Regions from separate parts of the Homo sapiens genome. Here region 2 is linked to region 1. Evidence: fine-mapped expression QTL. A gene starts in region 1. The other region holds a variant in brackets. All regions are shown on one strand. Distances are between the middles of the regions.

Region 1 (8,337 bases):
AAGAGAAGACACATTTGGCATTCAACTACTTATTGAGAGTCTATTGTATGCCAAGCCCTGTGTCAGGCGCTGGTGAGACAAGGAAATCATATTTATTCAGCACCTACTATGACGTCAGATCCGAGGCTAGACACCAGGGATATAAGAAACTAACATTCATCACTGTCCACATATGTGCCAAGCACCAGGATAGGCAAGTCACATGCATTATGTCATTTAATCATCAGAACAATCCTATGAGATAAGGATTCTTTTCTTGTCTTTCAGATGAGAAAACTCACTCAAAGACATTAAGCAGTGATGCTGGAATTCAAATCCACATGGGCCTAACTCCAACACTTTGTCACTCCACCCAGTGACTGACCTGTCTCTAGAACACTGAGACCACCCCAGAAAGGGAAGGAGAGAGTGGGGAGATGAGGGTACCCTGGGCAGAAAAGGAAACGGGGTGATACAGCCCTGCATAAATAAATGGCAACCTTCAGGCAAGTCAGCAGTACCCCCAGCCTCCAAACATAGAAGTGGCCATCTCTCTGAGTGTCGGGGCTGTCTTTTCATCTTTGTGCTTGCCCCATAGGGAGTGTCAGAATGTGTTTACTGAACACACACATTTTGTGGACTCATAGAGATACCCAGTGTCACAGCTGGTCAGTGCATAGCTAAGCACCCAGATAAGTTATCCTTGTTCTATGTTCACATCTCCTCTGGAGGCCAAAAGTAGGGAGGAGGGGAGGGGCCCATGTGGAAGAAAGAAGCTGAGTGCATAGATATGCCCAGTCCGCTCTTGGTGGAGAAGAGACCAATCGATCCTTAGTGGAACAAGAGCACCCAGCAGCATCCTCTCTAGTCCCTCCACCTCTGGTCCAGCCACACACACTCCTTCCTGGCTTCATGCCATACGCCCTAACCACCCCAGTCTTCTGGACAGCCACAGTGTAGCCACTGCAGAGAGAAAAGCAAAAAAAAAAAAAAAAAAGTGTTGGCAGCTGGGGGGCAGAGGGACCCCCTGGGAGCTCAGCTAAGTGAAGACAAAGGAGTAGCCCACGACCACTGCACTTCTCGATTCTCCACACACTCCAGGGCCCCAGCCCAAGTCCAGCCCCTCTTTGGCCCCTCTCAATCTGGGTGGCCCTCTGGGGAGGATGCTTGGCCTGGAAGGCTGGCTCAGCCAGGGAGGCCCTCTAGCCAAGCCTTTGGATCCAGAATCTCTGTAAGGCGCTCTGTGAATCACAATACAAGAATAGCAATACTACTAACACTTCACAGCACTCACTGCGGGCTATGCACTATTCTAAGCATTTTATATATATTAAGAACTCTTAATCTGCACAACAACCCTATGTAGTAATACTATGTTTATATCCTTTTTACAGTTGAGGGAAGTAAATGAGGCTGGAACCACACAGCAAAGGTTAGACCTTAAAGTCTCATCCCAGAGCTAGACTAAAAGACATCAAAACAGGCAAGAAGTTTTTTTCATCAGTGAGTGCTAAGGCAGGCCACCTGCAACTCAAAAGCTAGGGACTGAGCAGGTGCCTGGCCTCTCACATACCCCCCGCCCCCCAGCAGCAGAGCACCCCCTGCTGGAGCAAAAGCAGGGTGAGGCAGTCAGGCCCTCTGGGAAAGGCCCCAGCTTGGCTCTGGGAGACGGAACCAGGGGCCACCTTCAGAGAGGAGGGGGAAATGACAAGAGACCAAGCTATTAAAAATAACCTAGAATTTGCCTGGAAATAGCTTAGAGAGTTCAGCATGTCCTAAAAAGGCCTCCAGTCCTCGAACTCTGACAGATGGAGAAGGAGGGAGGAAGGGAGGGAGGGAGCAAAGGTGAATGAGGAAGCAGATGGTAAACAGAAGAGGAGATGAAGTCCGTTGCTTTCTATCTCTCCCAAAGTTTTGGGGACCACCGACCCTGCTACCAGATGATAGGGATAATGGAAGAAGAAAGATTAGAGCTAGGCCCCCACTCCCCAAGCAAGTGAGGAGAAATGAGCTCTTGTCCCTGCCCCCTGCCCCCAGACCGACAGTAGAGGCAGAAGACAGTCCCAGTGGACAGCATTGATCCCAGTAATGGATACTTAATGTGGCTTAGGCACTGGTTGAAGAGAGAAAAGCCCCCTAGCAGGAGCAGGTGAGAAGCTTTCTTCACCTCTGGCCTCCCTTTTTACAATCAGACATGTAGCAAGAGCCAAGGATACAGGCAACATGACCAGTCACAGGCCCCTCACAAAAGTATATCCATCTCCCATGGGTCCTGAACTGATTAGAAAAAATTAGAATTGTCCTCCACCCCTTACTCCTCCTGGCCCTTCCCAGCTGCTGAGATTCCTGGAGTTGGAAATTTGCTAAGGAGGAGGAAGGGGAGCAGCCTGGCCAGCATCCTTCCTGGATCTCTCTCACTGCTACAGCTGCTGCGGCTACTACTACTGCTACTAGTACTTTGAGGGTTCAGTTTGCTGCCACTCTCTATCACCAAGCCACCTACTGCAGGTTGGCAGACCTGCAGATCCTCTCCCAATCTTCCCGTGGTCTTAAGCCACAGAAGTGGAAGCTCTCTCCTGGCCTTCCAGTGCCCTGCTGCCCTCATTCCATCCATGGCAATGCTCTAGCAGGAAGTTATTTCTGGAGTCTGCCCTGCATGCATCCCTCTCATGGCACCCTCAACTTCTATGTCCTTTCCATCTCCTCCCATTCTAAGCAGAGACAGACAGTCTCCCTCCCTTGGGGAATTCAGCCCTTGGAAGAAGCAGGGGAGCCAGAGGCCCTGGGGCTGGATCAAGGATGCAAGTTGGGGGAAAGGCCCAGAAGAAGGAGATGGTTCGCTGCCAAGACAAGAACCTTGCTTTCCAACTCATCCCTAAAGCAAAATACTGGTCTCAGGGCCGGGAAGTGCAGCTTCAGACGCAAGCCAGATGAGGCAAGGCTCCAGGTTGGGATGTGGGATGTCTGTGGGCAGTCTAGGTCTTGGTGGGGCTAGAAAACAGAGAAATGAGGAGGCCCACAGAGTGGGGAGGGGGACGATCTGTGGCTCGGGCATGGCGACTCTGGGCGGGTGCGGTGACTCACCAGCTCTGGGGTCGGGGCTGCAACTGCCGGTGCAGGGCCACAGAGAAGCCGAAGAGGCTGCCTGGCTCGCCCTCCTTGCGCAAGGCACCCATCACGTCCAGATTGAAGGCGACAGCCCGTGAGAAGAGCAGTTCGACGAGCAGGGAGCCAAAAAGGTAGCAAATCCCGGAGGCCCCCCAAGGGTCGCGGCTCCGAGCCCCGGCCATGGGACGATCCCTGCGCGAGCTCCCAGCGAATGCAAGGGAAATCTCGCACGCCCCAAGCCCCAGGTCCCCCCAGGCGCGTCTCTGGTCTCCAAAGTCTCGTTGGTCTTTCAGACGTCTCCCAGACGTTCGCCCCGCCAGCCCTCCCGCCCGCCCGCCGCTCCGCCACCCCGCCGCCCCAGCACCGGCTAGGACAACTACAGCAGCCGCAGCTCCGGCGCCCACTCCGGCTCCCGCCTCCTCTCCCGGGGACGCCACTCAGGCCCCGCCTCCGGCCCCGCCCCTCGCTCCCGCGGCAGGTGGAGACCCAAGCCCGTCTCCAAGGGGATGCCCAGGCTGGTGGCTGGGATGGAAACTAGCCTTGCTGACCCCCCACCACCACGCCCCCCAAGCCCAGCACCGTCTCCGGCTCCGCCCCTGCGCGGCGCTCTCCTCCCCTTCTCCCCCAACCCCATCCCCACCCCGGGAGTGGTGGAGGCGGCGCCTTGGAATGCGGAGGGAGAGAAGTACAGATAGAAAGAGAGGGGCTGAAACAGAGGAAGGAGGGTAAGAGATGAGAAGTTGGGAAGACGCTAAAAGACAACCTGGGAAGAGAGATGTGCAGATAGAGAGGAAATGAAAGGGGAGCCGTCCTGGGCCTGGGTGCAGCGTGGCATCTTAGTGCTCCCTGTTCCCCCATGGTCACATAGAGCACTCTTTCTGCTGTTGGGATCAGACCGCTGCCCTCCCCCATCCTATCCCATCCCCCGCCCCCAGCCCGGCAATGACCACAGCAGTGCTAGCCACATCGTCAGGATTCAAGGGAACAGAGAAAAAGAGGCAAGAAGAGAGAGAGAAACTCGGGAGATACGGGGAGCAAATGGAGAAATGGAAAAAGGAAAGGAATAGAGAGGAAGAAAGAAGGGCAAGAGATTAATTGACAAGGGATGGAATGAAGGGAGAAAAGAAAACGACTGGGGATGATTACAGGAAGAGGAAATTAAGCAGTGGGGAGGGGAGTGGGTGTCAAAGAAGGCAAAGATGAAAGAGACTGGACCCAAGAGGCAGAGGGATGTAAAGGGTGTCCCCAGCTACCAGACCCGTCCCAGGACTGCACATTTCCTATCCATGAAAGGGGATGGGAGGGGGCAGAGTCCTGGACTGGCTCAGCAGGACCTGGGTGGGGCTGAGATGGGATCTCCACAGGGACCCATTGGCCTGTCCCTCTTCCTCTCCCTTTCCCTCAGGCTGGGACAGAGGCAAGGGGGTGGGGGGACACTTTCCAACTCTCTGCTATTTATAACTCCGATACAGAAATGGGGCCAGAAGGAGAGACAGGAAATAATTTGGCATAATGGGAACCTCGAATGCTCCCACTTCCCCTTCCTACTCCCCTTGCTTACTGGTGTTGGTCTTGTGAATATACATCTGTCCATCTTCCCTTCTCTCTCTCACTATCTGATTTTGTCTCATCCCAAATTCTATTTTGTCATCATTCTTGTCTCTGCCACACTTGGAATCTTTCTCAGAGTATTTCTCAATGTTTCTAGTGTTGTCTCTGCCCTTCAAACACTATCATATTCTTACGATTCTTTCTTCTCTTTCCCTTTCTTAAAAGTTCCAATAAGTGTCCTACCTCCTTCCTCTTCCTGTGTTCTGTCTTTCCTACTTCATTGTTCAGGATTATACTTCTTTGAAAACAAAAAAAAAGTGGGTTCTTACTCTGCTGCCCTGGGACAGTCTTTGCCTTGGATAAGTTAACAGACATTTGGAAGTCTGGCCCTCTGTTTTCCAATACTACACCTGTGGCTATCCCCTCCAGAGCACTAACACATCTCTAAACAGGTACTATAAGGAAATACATATGCTGTCAGCAGGGCTGGCACCAGGATTCTACTTTCACCATGCCCTCCCCATCCTTTTTAATATCTCAGAGCCCCAGACAGTAGAGAAGAGCTGACATGGGAATGCAGAATTGCAAAATTAGGACAGAACTGGGACTACTGACTCCCTGCCCAGGTCCCCCCGCCCCCGACCCAGCTCAAAATGCCTTTAGAGCCCAAGCTGCCTCCTATCTGCACCTGCAGCTTCTGCCTGTCTCCATTCCCACTCCACTGGCTTCTGTGATCCAGGGCTGAAATCAGATGCCAAGAATCTGCTTCTGACCTCCTCTCTCCAAATATTTGAGAAGTCACCTCACCACCACAGGAGGAAAGATCAGGAAAGAAGAGAGAGAGAGGCCACCCAAAATTAGCCTGGCTATAAATAGAGGGGCAAAGGAGGGAGGGGAACACACAAGAGCGTGCTAGACCAGCCTAGTAAATTTAGACATGTAGATTTCTCTCAAGGAGAAATGAGACCAGAATGTTGGAGTGGAAGATAATATCGTAGGTGAAGAGGGAAATTAAGAAACTAGACGGGGCCGGGCGCGGTGGCTCACGCCTATAATCCCAGCACTTTGGGAGGCCGAAGCAGGCGGATCACCTGAGATCAGAAGTTCAAGACCAGCCGGACCAACACGGTGAAACCCTGTCTCTACTAAAAATACAAAAATTAGCCGGGTGTGGTGGCGGGTACCTGTAATCCCAGCTACTCCAGAGACTGAGGCACAAGAATCACTTAAACCCAGGAGACGGAGGTTGCAGTGAGCTGAGATGGCACCACTGCACTCCAGCCTGGGTGACAGAGACTCCACATCAGAAAAAAAGAAAAAAAAAAGAAACTAGAAGGATCCAGAGAATGCGGTAAGCTCAATATTAAAATAAATAAACTGTTAGAGAACTTCTTGTATTTCAGTCAAGAGCTTAGGAATTAGTTAAATTAAAAATTAATGCTGAGCTGGGCACAGTGGCTCATGCCTGCAATCCCAGCACTTTGAGAGGCCAAGGCAGGAGGATCACTTGAGCCCAGGAGTTGGAGACCAGCCTGGGCAACATAGGGAGACCCCCATCTCTACAAAAAATAGAAAAGTTAGCCAAATCTGTGGTCCCAGCTACTCAGGAGGCTAGGCGGGAGTGTCACTTGAGCCCAGGAGGTGAAGGCTGCAGTGAGCCATGATCTTGCCACTGCACTCCAGCCTGGGTGATAGAGTGAGACCCTGTCTCCAAACAAAAAATGCTGAAACTGTATTATTCCACTCGCATACCATTCTCAAAATGACAAAACTATAGAAATGAAGACCAGATTACTGGCTGCCAGGGGACAAGGATGGAGGGGGGTGGGGACAAACATAAAGGAATAGCACAAGGGGGTTCCTTTGTGGTGATGGGTTTTGTATCTTGATTGTGGTGGTGATTATCCAAATCTATACAAGATATAAAACTGCACAGAACTACAAACAAACAAATAAATGCATGTAAAAAATGGTGAAAACTGAGTGAGGTCTGCAGGCCAGTTAACAATACTGTACCAATATCAACTTTTTGGTTTTGATTTTATGCTACAGTTACATAAGATGTCACCATTAGGGGAAACTGAGTGAAAGGTACACAAGACTTCATGTGCTATTTTTACAACTTCCTCTGATCTATAATTATTTCAAAATAATTTCCAAGCCAGACATGGTAATCCCAGCACTTTGGGAGGGAGGGAGGTGGATCACTTGAGGTCAGGAGTTTGAGACCAGCCTGGCCAATATGACAAAAACCCATCTCTACTAAAAATACAAAAATCAGCTGGGCGTGGTGGTACACACCTGTAATCCCAGCTACTCAGGAGGCTGAGGCACAAGAATCGCTTGAACCCAGAAGGCGGAGCCTGCAGTGAGCAGAGATAGCACCACTGCACTCCAGCCTGGGGGACACAGTGAGACTCTGCCTCAAAAAAAAAAAAAAATTTAAAAATTTTGTGCTTCTAAGGATACCACTAACAAAGTAAAATGATAATCCATGGAATAGATTATCCACTCCACTCCATGGAATAGATTAATACACTGTACTTCAGCCTGGGCAACAGAGTGAGACTCTGTCTCAAAAAAAAAGAAAAAGAAAAAGAAATGTGGCTAGTATGACTGAGAAACTGAACTTTTTAAATAAATTAAATGTAAAAATGAAAGATTAATAATCTTTATAAAAATTTCCAAAATTTTAGACGTTGAGAAATGTCCAGATCCAGCCAAGATTTTAGCCCTTTAGCTTTTGTATGAGTGGAAGCTGAGGCTTTCTCCAGCTCCTTCCCTTTTCAACATCTTCTTCCCCACTTTGAGATCAGTATTTTTCAGCTCCCTCAAATCACACTTTTTGCAACTGTTGTCTCTAGCTTACAAGCAAACACTTCCAGAACACACACTTCAGGGCTAACTTCTCCCTCCACCTCATCTGGCAACAGAGCCTTGGAGCTTATGTCCCAAGGTCAGGCTTTTCCGTCCCAACATGCACACCATGAGAACTTTTTTACTTCACTCACCTCTCCAGCACTGGAATCCTTCTGCCTGCCTCTGAATTCTGGTTGTAGTCAAAGCTTGAACCATGGGAGTGGCTGGGAGGAAAAGAACATAAATGTGATTGAGGGAATTCAGTGGGGAAACAGCTTGACCGCTCCGGTCTTTGACGATCCAAAAGAAACCCTTAACACTTGAGAAGGACTGGGAGGTCACTTACCAAAGGGAGCCATTTGGACTGTCTCAAGGGCCCCCTTTCTTTGAGCACTGGCTTCAGGCCAACATTTGGAACTTAGCCACACCACCACCAACCCCCTCTCTTGAAGCCCAGCCAGATCTCCCAGTATGTGAAGCCTTGTCTACTCACTCTGTGTCCTCCCTCAGCCCTCATCCAACCCCTAACAACTCAGCAGCTTCCAGCCCTGTTTGGCCCAGCCAGTCAGTTTGGAGCTTGCTAATTAAAGCTAACTCTGAAAGAGACCTCAAAAGAAGAGGGAAATGAGTGAAGAAAGGAGTGTGGAGTTGCATTCATTCAGTCCAAGGGAAAATAATCTGAGTAGGAAATCGTAAGGAGAGGTGAGCAGAAAGAGACTTCAAATTTCAAGAGTCATTCTCCAGATAGATATGTATGCGACTTGTGTCCATCTCTACCAAGGACAAGTGAAGCTGAGCTTCAACTGCAGCAGAAACTAAGGTTAGACAGTGAACAATAAA
Region 2 (8,337 bases), 31 kb before region 1:
AGAGGAGACAGCCAATTTTAAAATATAGACAAGCCAGGCCTGGTGGTGCACACCTGTAGTCCCAGGTACTCAGGAGGCTGAGGCAGGAGGATCCCTTGAGGGCAGGAGTTCGAGGCCACAGTGCTGTAATCACACATATGAATAGCCACTGCACTCCAGCCTACACAACAGAGTGATACACCATCTATAAAATTAAATTAAAATATAGAAAAATTTAAAAGCTTAAATGTGATAAAGGTATTCATCATCTATTTGACATACACATTTTTAGTGTCTACTACTTGCCAGGCACATGCTAGATGCTAAACACGTGGTGATAAGGGAAAAGGACACAATCCTTACTGTTATGGAGCTCATGGGCAGACACTAATACCATAATAACAGTCATGAACAGTATCACAAACTGGCCTAAGGGCTGTTGACCAAAATGAATAAGGGAAGGGATGCTTGATACAAGAACCAAACAATGAGTTAAAAAATTAACTAGGCAGGAGGGAGGAGGGACTGCTGAAAAGAAAGCAAGCATATCAGGAAGAGGAAGACAAGCTCAACAGCACTGAAGCTAAAAGGAGTGAGAGTATGAGGAACTGAAAGAAGATTGTATAGCTAAAACACAGGGTTAAGGGAGGGTAGCATGAGAGGTGGACAGGGGCCAGATCACACAGGGCCTTATGGGCTACAGTAAGGAGTTCAGATTTTGTACCAAAGATAATGGGAATCCACTAAAAGGTTTTAAGCAGTGGGTGAAAGTGGAGAGACAGTTAATGAGGCCCTTGCAGTGGGCCAGGCAGCGGAGGGTCATGATCTGGTCTAGGGTTATGCCAGTGGAGATGAAAGAAATGCATGAAATTAATGAACTGGGAAATAGAGCTGACAGGACTTGTGAGTAACTTGAAAGTTATATATATATTGGCCGGGCGCGGTGGCTCACACCTGTAATCCCAGCACTTTTGGAGGCCAAGGCAGGCAGATCACGAGGTCAAGAGATCGAGACCATCCTGGTCAACATGGTGAAACCCTGTCTCTACTAAAAATACAAAAATTAGCTGGGTGTGGTGGTGCGTGCCTGTAGTCCCAGCTACTCAGGAGGCTGAGGCAGGAGAATTGCTTGAACCCAGGAGGCGGAGGTTGCAGTGAGCCGAGATCGCCCCACTGCACTCCAGCCTAGCAAAAGAGCGGGACTCTGCCTCAAAAAAAAAGAAAAGAAAAGAAAGTCATATATATGTTATAGAGAGATACAGATGGAGATGAAATGACATGATGTTTGGGATTTGCTTCAAAATGACACACAGGAGAAGGAAGCAGAAAGTAGAAAAGGATGTGGATGGGGAAGGATTGGCTGTGGGTTGATAGTTGTTGGGATGAATGATGTATACATGGGGGTATCTTATACTGTTCTGCCAACTTTTGTGTATATTCAAAATTCTCCATTATACAAAGTTAGAAATGAGAAAAGAAAAGGAGGAGACAGAGAAGAAATAGAATAAATCCTAGGTTTTTGGTTGAGCAATCAAGAAGCTAATGGTGCCATTCACTGAGATGATGAAGAAGATGGGCAGAGTAAGACAAGAGACTTGGGGAGTACCGTAAGTGTCATTTTGGACATGTTAAGTTTTATATGTCCAGAAGATATGCTGAGGAGGAGGATCAAGTACACAACTGGGTATACAAATTTGAAACTCAAAGGAAGGATCTGCACTAAAGATATAAATGTGTGAATAATTTGCATATACATGGCATTTTAAACCATGAAAATGGATGGGATTTGGTGAAAATTATGTGTCAATGTAGGTTCATCAATTGTAATAAATGTCCACTCTGGTGGGGGATACTGATAATGAGGAAGGCTAGTCATGTGTGAGGACAAAGGGTATGTGGAAAATCTCTGTACTTTCCTCAACTTTTCTATGAAGCTAAAACTGCTCTAAAAAATAAAGTCTATATTAAAAAAAAAAAGATGAGGTTATTTAATGAGAGAATTTAGACAGAGAAAGACCCAAGACTAAACCCAAAGAAACAAAATTTAAAGGTCGAGTAGATGAGAAAGATCTAAAAAAAGAAGTTTCTAAGAAGTAACAGCCACGGGAATGTTATAGAAACAAGAAGACTGTTATGTTAGGACAGCCTAGATGAGAGAATTTTTCAAGAAGAAATAGTAGCCAACTATTTCTGAAGCTGTTGAAAAGTCAGATAAGATGAGAACAGGGAATATTCACTGGACCTGGCATGTGGAAATAATTAATAGGCTTGATAATAATAGTTTCGGGTTTCTTTGTTTTGTTTTGTTTTGTTTTTAGAGACAGGGTCTCTCTCTGTCTCCCAGGCTGGAGTACACTGACCCAGTCATGGTTCACTGTAACCCTGAACTTGCAGGCTCAAGCAATCCCCTTGCCTCTGCCTCCTAAGTAGCTGGGGCTACAGGCGCATGCCACCACACCCGGCTAATTGGCTAATTTTTTTATTTTTTGTAGAGAAAAACAACAGCCTATGTTGCCCAAGCTGGTCTCAAACTCCTGGGCTCAAGCAGTCATTTCCTCTCGGCCTCCCAAAGTACTTGGATTACAGGCACGAGCCACCACGCCCGCCCAAAGTCATAATTCTTGAGTCATCTGCTCGTGTTATCTTGGTTTCCTCACCTTCCATTCACTCTTTCTCCCACTCCAATCCATCACTAATAAAAATTTCTTGGGCTTGGCACAGTAGCTCACGCCTGTAATCCCAGCACTTTGGGAGACCAAGACAGGAGGATGGCTTGAGGCCAGGAGTTCAAGATCAGCCTGGGCAACCCTGAGAGATACCCTGTCTCTACAAAAATTTTTAAAAGTTAGTAGGCATGGTGGTATGCACCTATAGTCCTAGCTACTCAAGAGGCTGAAGCAGGAAGGGCAGCACAACCCCAGGAGTTTGAGGCTGCAGTGAGTCAGAATGGTGCACTCCAGCCTAGGCAACAGAGCAAGATCCTGCCAAAAAAAAAAGACTTTGACATAGATTTGTAAAATGGAGTTTTAGCTAAAGTGACATGTGGTGTCAAGAGGGTCAGTTTATTATTAACCTGAAATATATTAGAGCATATTCATATTTTGAAAGATCCATGGAAAGGCAGAGATTAATGATTTAGGAGAAAGAAAGATAAAATGAAGACAAGAATTCATAGCAGCATTGTTTATAGTACCCCAAAAGTGGAAACAACCCAAATGTCTATCAACTGTTGAATAAATAAACAAAATGTGGCATATCTGTACAATGCAATGCTACTTGGACGTAAAAGGAATGAAGTATTGATACATGCTACAACATGTGTAAACTTTGGAAGCATTATGCTGTGTGAAAAGCCAGTCACATAGGCCACATGTAGTATGATTCCAATTACATGAAATGTCAAGAATAAGTAAATCCATACAGACATAAGTAGAGTAGTGATTGCCTACGGAAAGGAAATTGATGGTACTGGGGTTGGGATGGGGATGGGGGAAATGGGAGTAAGTGGTAAAAGCACAAGTTTCTTTTGGGGTAACGAAAATGTTCTAAAATTGATTGTGGTGGCTGGTTGCACAACTCTGAATATACAGTCACATGTTAAGTCATATGTTGCTTAACAACAGGAATAAGTTCCGAGAAATGCATCGTTAGGTGATTTTACCATTACGGGAACATCATCATAGAGTGTCCTTACACAAGCTTGGATGGTGTAGCCTACTATACAGCTAGGCTATATGGC[G/A]TAACCTATTGCTCCTAGGCTGCAAGCCTGTACAGCATGTTACTGTACTCAATACTATAGGCAATTGTAACACCATGTTAAGTATTTATGTATCTAAACGTGGAAAAGGTGTGGTAAAAAATACAGTATAAAAGATTTAAAAACGGCATACCTATATAGGGCACATATCATGAATGGACTTTGCAGGACAAGAAGTTGCTCTGGGTGAGTCAGTGAGTGACTACACTAAATTTATTTACATTTTTTTTTTCTTTTCTTCAATAATAAACTAGCCTTAGCTTACTGCAACTTTTTTACTTTATAAACTTTTTAATTTTTTTAACTTTGACTCTTGTAATAACACTTAGCTTAAAACATAAATATTCTACAGCTGTACAAAAATATTTTATTTCTTTATATCCTTATTCTATAAGCTTTTTCTATTTTTTAAATTTTTTTAACTTTTTTGTTAAAAGCTAAGACACAAAGACACACATTAGCCTAGGTCTACACAAGGTCAGGATCATCAAGACATCACTACAGGACAGGGATTTTTCAGCTACATAATAATCTTATGGTACCTCCATCATATATGTGCTCTGTCATTGAGCTAAATGTGTTATGCAGCACATGGCTGTACAGTTGACCCTTGAACAACTCAGGACCTAGGGGACTGATACCCCTCACAATTGAAAATCTGTGTATCTGCAGGGTGGGGAACACCACACATTGGGGCCTGTCGTGGGGTGGGGTGGGGGGAAGGATAGCATTAGGAGATATACCTAATGTAAATGACCAGCTAATGGGTGCAGCACACCAACATGGTACATGTATACATATGTAACAAACCTGCACGTTGTGCACATGTACCCTAGAACTTAAAGTGTAATTAAAAAAAGAAAATTTAAAAAAATATATATGTGTGTCTGGCCAGGCATGGTGGCTCACGCCTGCAATCCCAGCACTTTCAGAGGCCGAGGAGGGTGGATCACGAGGTCAGGAGATCGAGACCATCCTCACTAACTCGGTGAAAACCCATCTCTACTAAAAATACAAAAAAAAATTAGCCGGGCGTGGTGGCGGGCGCCTGTAGTTCCAGCTACTCGGGAGGCTGAGACAGGAGAATGGCATGAACCCGGGAGGCAGAGCTTGCAGTGAGCAGAGATCATGCCACTGCACTCCAGCCTGGGTGACAGAGCAAGACTCCGTCTCAAAAAAAAGAAAAATTAGCTGGGCATGTTGGCATATACCTGTGGTGACCACTACTCAGGAGGCTAAGGTGGGAGGATTGCTTGAGCCTGAGAGGTTGAGGCTGCAGTGAGCTGTGATCGCACACTACACTCCAGCCTGAGTGACAGAGCAAGGCTATCTCAAAAATAAAAAATAAAATGAAAATTTCTAGAAAAGGAAATACAGAGGCTCTTAATTATAAGAAACAAAAATTCAACCTCACGCAGAAAAGAGTAAGTAAGCCGGGCACGGCAGCTCATACCTGTAATCCCAGCACTTTGGGAGGCCGAGGCTGGTGGATCACCTGAGGTCAGGAGTTCGAGACCAGCCTGGCCAACATGGTAAAACCCTGTCTCTACTAAAAATACAAAAATTAGCCAAGTGTGGTGGCATGCGCCTGTAATCCCAGCTACTCGGGAGGCTGAGGAGGGAGAATCGCTTGAATCCGGGAGTCGGAGGTTGCAGCAAGCCGAGATAGTGCCACTGCACTTCAGCCTGGGCGACAGAGTGAGACTCTGTCTCAGGAAAAAAAAAAAAAAAAAAGGAAAAGAAAAAGAAAAGAGCAAATAAAAAGCACAGGATAATACTACTTTGCCTCTTTCTGTGTCCATGGAGCAGGCCCAGGAGCAATTACTCCCCAGTGATAATCACATCCAGCATTCAGATCTTGGTTTTTAAATACCATCCTCCTCACAAAAGACCAGTGCTTCTTTGAGAAATAACTAAGTTCGGGGCTGGAGCAGGGGAAATACAAGATGAGCCTGGAACATCTTCTTGTAGCAGAAAGTAAGAAAATGCTCAAAGAGTGATGGAGTTGTGTCAAAAGGAGACAGGAGCCAGCTTGCAGGTGCTCCCCCAGCCAAATCTAGGGCAATTTGAACATCAAAATACACACCCAGGTATTCACCCAAGAGAAATAAAAGCATACGTCCACACAAACCCATGTACACAAACAGTTCATAGTAGCTTTATTTCTAACAGTCAGAAATTGGAAACAACCCAAACGTTTATCAACAAGTGAATGGATAAAAATATATGTGGTATATCCATACAATGGAATACTACTCAGAAATGGAAATGAACTGCGGATGCATGTACAACATGGATGACTCTCCAAATAAACATGCTGAATGAAATAAGCCAGATGCTGAAATCCCATACATTATAGGATTCCATTTACACAAAATTCCAGAAAATGCAAACTATTTGGGAGGCCAAGGTAGGCGGATCACCCGAGGTCAGGAGTTTGAGACCAGCCTGGTCAATATGGTGAAACACCGTCTCTACTAAAAATACAAAAATTAGCCGGGCATGGTGGTGCATGCTTGTAATCCCAGCTACTCAGGAGGCTGAGGCAGGAGAATCACTTGAACCTGGGAGGTGGAGGTTGCAATGAGCCAAGATCAAACAACTGCACTCCAGCCTGGGCCACAGAGTGAGACTCTGCCTGAGAAGAGAAGAGAAGAGAAATTAATCTATACTGACAGAGAGCAGATCAGCGGTTACCTGAAGATGGGGATGAAAGAGGGGCGAATGGATTACAAAGAAACACAAGGAAACTGATATAGTTTGGATGTTTGTCCCCTCCAAATCTCATGTTGAAATGTAATCCTCAATGTCAGAGGTGGGGCCTGGTGGGATGTGTTTGGCTCCTGAGGTCCCAACCCCTCATCAGTGGCTCAGTGCCAACCCCTTGGTGATGAGTGAGTTCTCGCTCTGGCAGTTCACGCAAGGTCTCTCTTGCTCCCTCTCTTGCCATGTGATACACTGCTCCCCTTCGTCTTCCACCATGATTGTAAGCTCCCTGAGACCCTCACCAGAGGCCAAGCAGATACTGGTGCCATGCTTCCTGTGCAGTCTGCAGAACTATGAACCAATTAAACTTTTTTTCTTTATAAATCAACCAGCCTTAGGTATTTCTTAACAGCAATGCAAAAGCCTAACACATAGACATGTTCATTATCTCGACTGTGGTAATGGTTTCCCAGGTATATACTGTGTCAAAAATAATCTATATACTGTAAATATGTAAACCTTCTTATATATATTATACCTCAAAGAAACTGTAAATAAATAAATAGGGTATTAGGTTACAAATCAGTGAATAAAATAGGAATCTATGCATCAATAATAATATGAACACATAAAAGACACATAAAACCAAATATTGCTGGTGGACGTGTAAATGGGTACAATCACTTTGGAAACCCATTTGCTATTATCTACTAAATCCAATACATTGTTAAGAAGGGGGGGAAGCAAGGTATACAAGAGTGTGTACAATATACTACTATTTGTAAAAGAAAAGGGAATATGTATATGTATATATGTACATGGATCTAAACACGTGGTGTGTGTGTTCCCTGCTCGTTCACAGGTCATCTCTGGAAGGATTCACAAGAAATTGGCAATATGGCATTTAGTGCCTCCAGAGAGGAGATCTGAGTGGTTGGGTCACAGGAGTAGAAGAGAGAATTTTCCCTGTAATCTCTTTAGTATCTTTTTAATTTTGTACTAAGTGAATGTACTGCCTCTTCCAAAAAAAGTTGTTTAATAATGTTTTGTAAAAAGAATTCTTCTCAGCCAGGCGCAGTGGCTCCCAACTGTAATCCCAGCACTTTGGGAAGTCGAGGTGGGTGGATCACCTGAGCCCAGGAGTTCAAGACCAACCTGGGCAACAGGGTGAAACCCTGTCTCTACAAATTACAGAAAAAAAAAAATTGCTGGGCATGGTGGTATGCACTTGTAGTCCCAGAAAATCAGGAGGCTGGTGTAAGAGGATCACTTGAGCCTAGGGACATTGAGGTTGCAGTGAGCCCAGACTGCTGCCACTGCACCCCAGCCTGGGCAGCAGAGACCCTGTCTCAAAAAAAGGAAAGAAGGAAAGAAGGGAGGAAGGGAGGGAGGGAGGGAAGGATCTCTAAAAAGTGGCTATTCTCTGACCTCACTTCCCCCTATTTGTCCAACTTACCCCATTCCCCACAGAACTAAACTTCTCACCCTTTCCAGGAGAGGGCATGCTGTCTCTGTCCTGTACACCTACTTTTTCCTCTGCCAAGAGCACCCTTCCCTTCCTATGGCCCCTCTGAAGTGCCTGACCTGAGGACGAAATGAGGCCAGGATATGTCCCATGAGTCAACTCTGTCCCCAGCATTCACCACTACCAACCCACCCCCAACGCCCTGCCAGCCCCCGACACTCCCCCGCCATGAGTCTGTCATCTGAAACATATCCCCTTACCCCTTCCCACTCCCTCTGAGATGACTCAGCAGCCCCTGCCCCCCTTCAGCTGGGCACAGTGCCCCAGAACTCAGGAACATGGGTACCACCTGTCCCTCCGCCCACATAAAAGTCATTGAAGAGCTTGTGGGGCTGTGGGACCTGCGCCCTCTGGAGGAATTCCATACACC

The links. PIP is the estimated chance that this variant, and not a neighbour inherited with it, causes the effect.
Region 2: its variant is fine-mapped to the expression of ITGA7 in whole blood (GTEx, PIP above 0.99).

What each region holds. Positions count from the first base shown.
Region 1 is chr12:55,704,414-55,712,750 of GRCh38, forward strand. ITGA7 (integrin subunit alpha 7) reads right to left here and starts at 3,491. Exons shown (of 25, transcript NM_002206.3): 1 at 3,064-3,491. The coding sequence starts at 3,269. RefSeq lists a silencer at 3,405-3,614.
Region 2 is chr12:55,673,272-55,681,608 of GRCh38, forward strand. No RefSeq gene overlaps it. Among named protein-coding and RNA genes, the nearest start is that of TMT1B, 4.3 kb to the right of the region's middle. RefSeq lists enhancers at 347-486, 8,124-8,337. The variant G/A (reference allele first, on the strand shown) is at 3,719.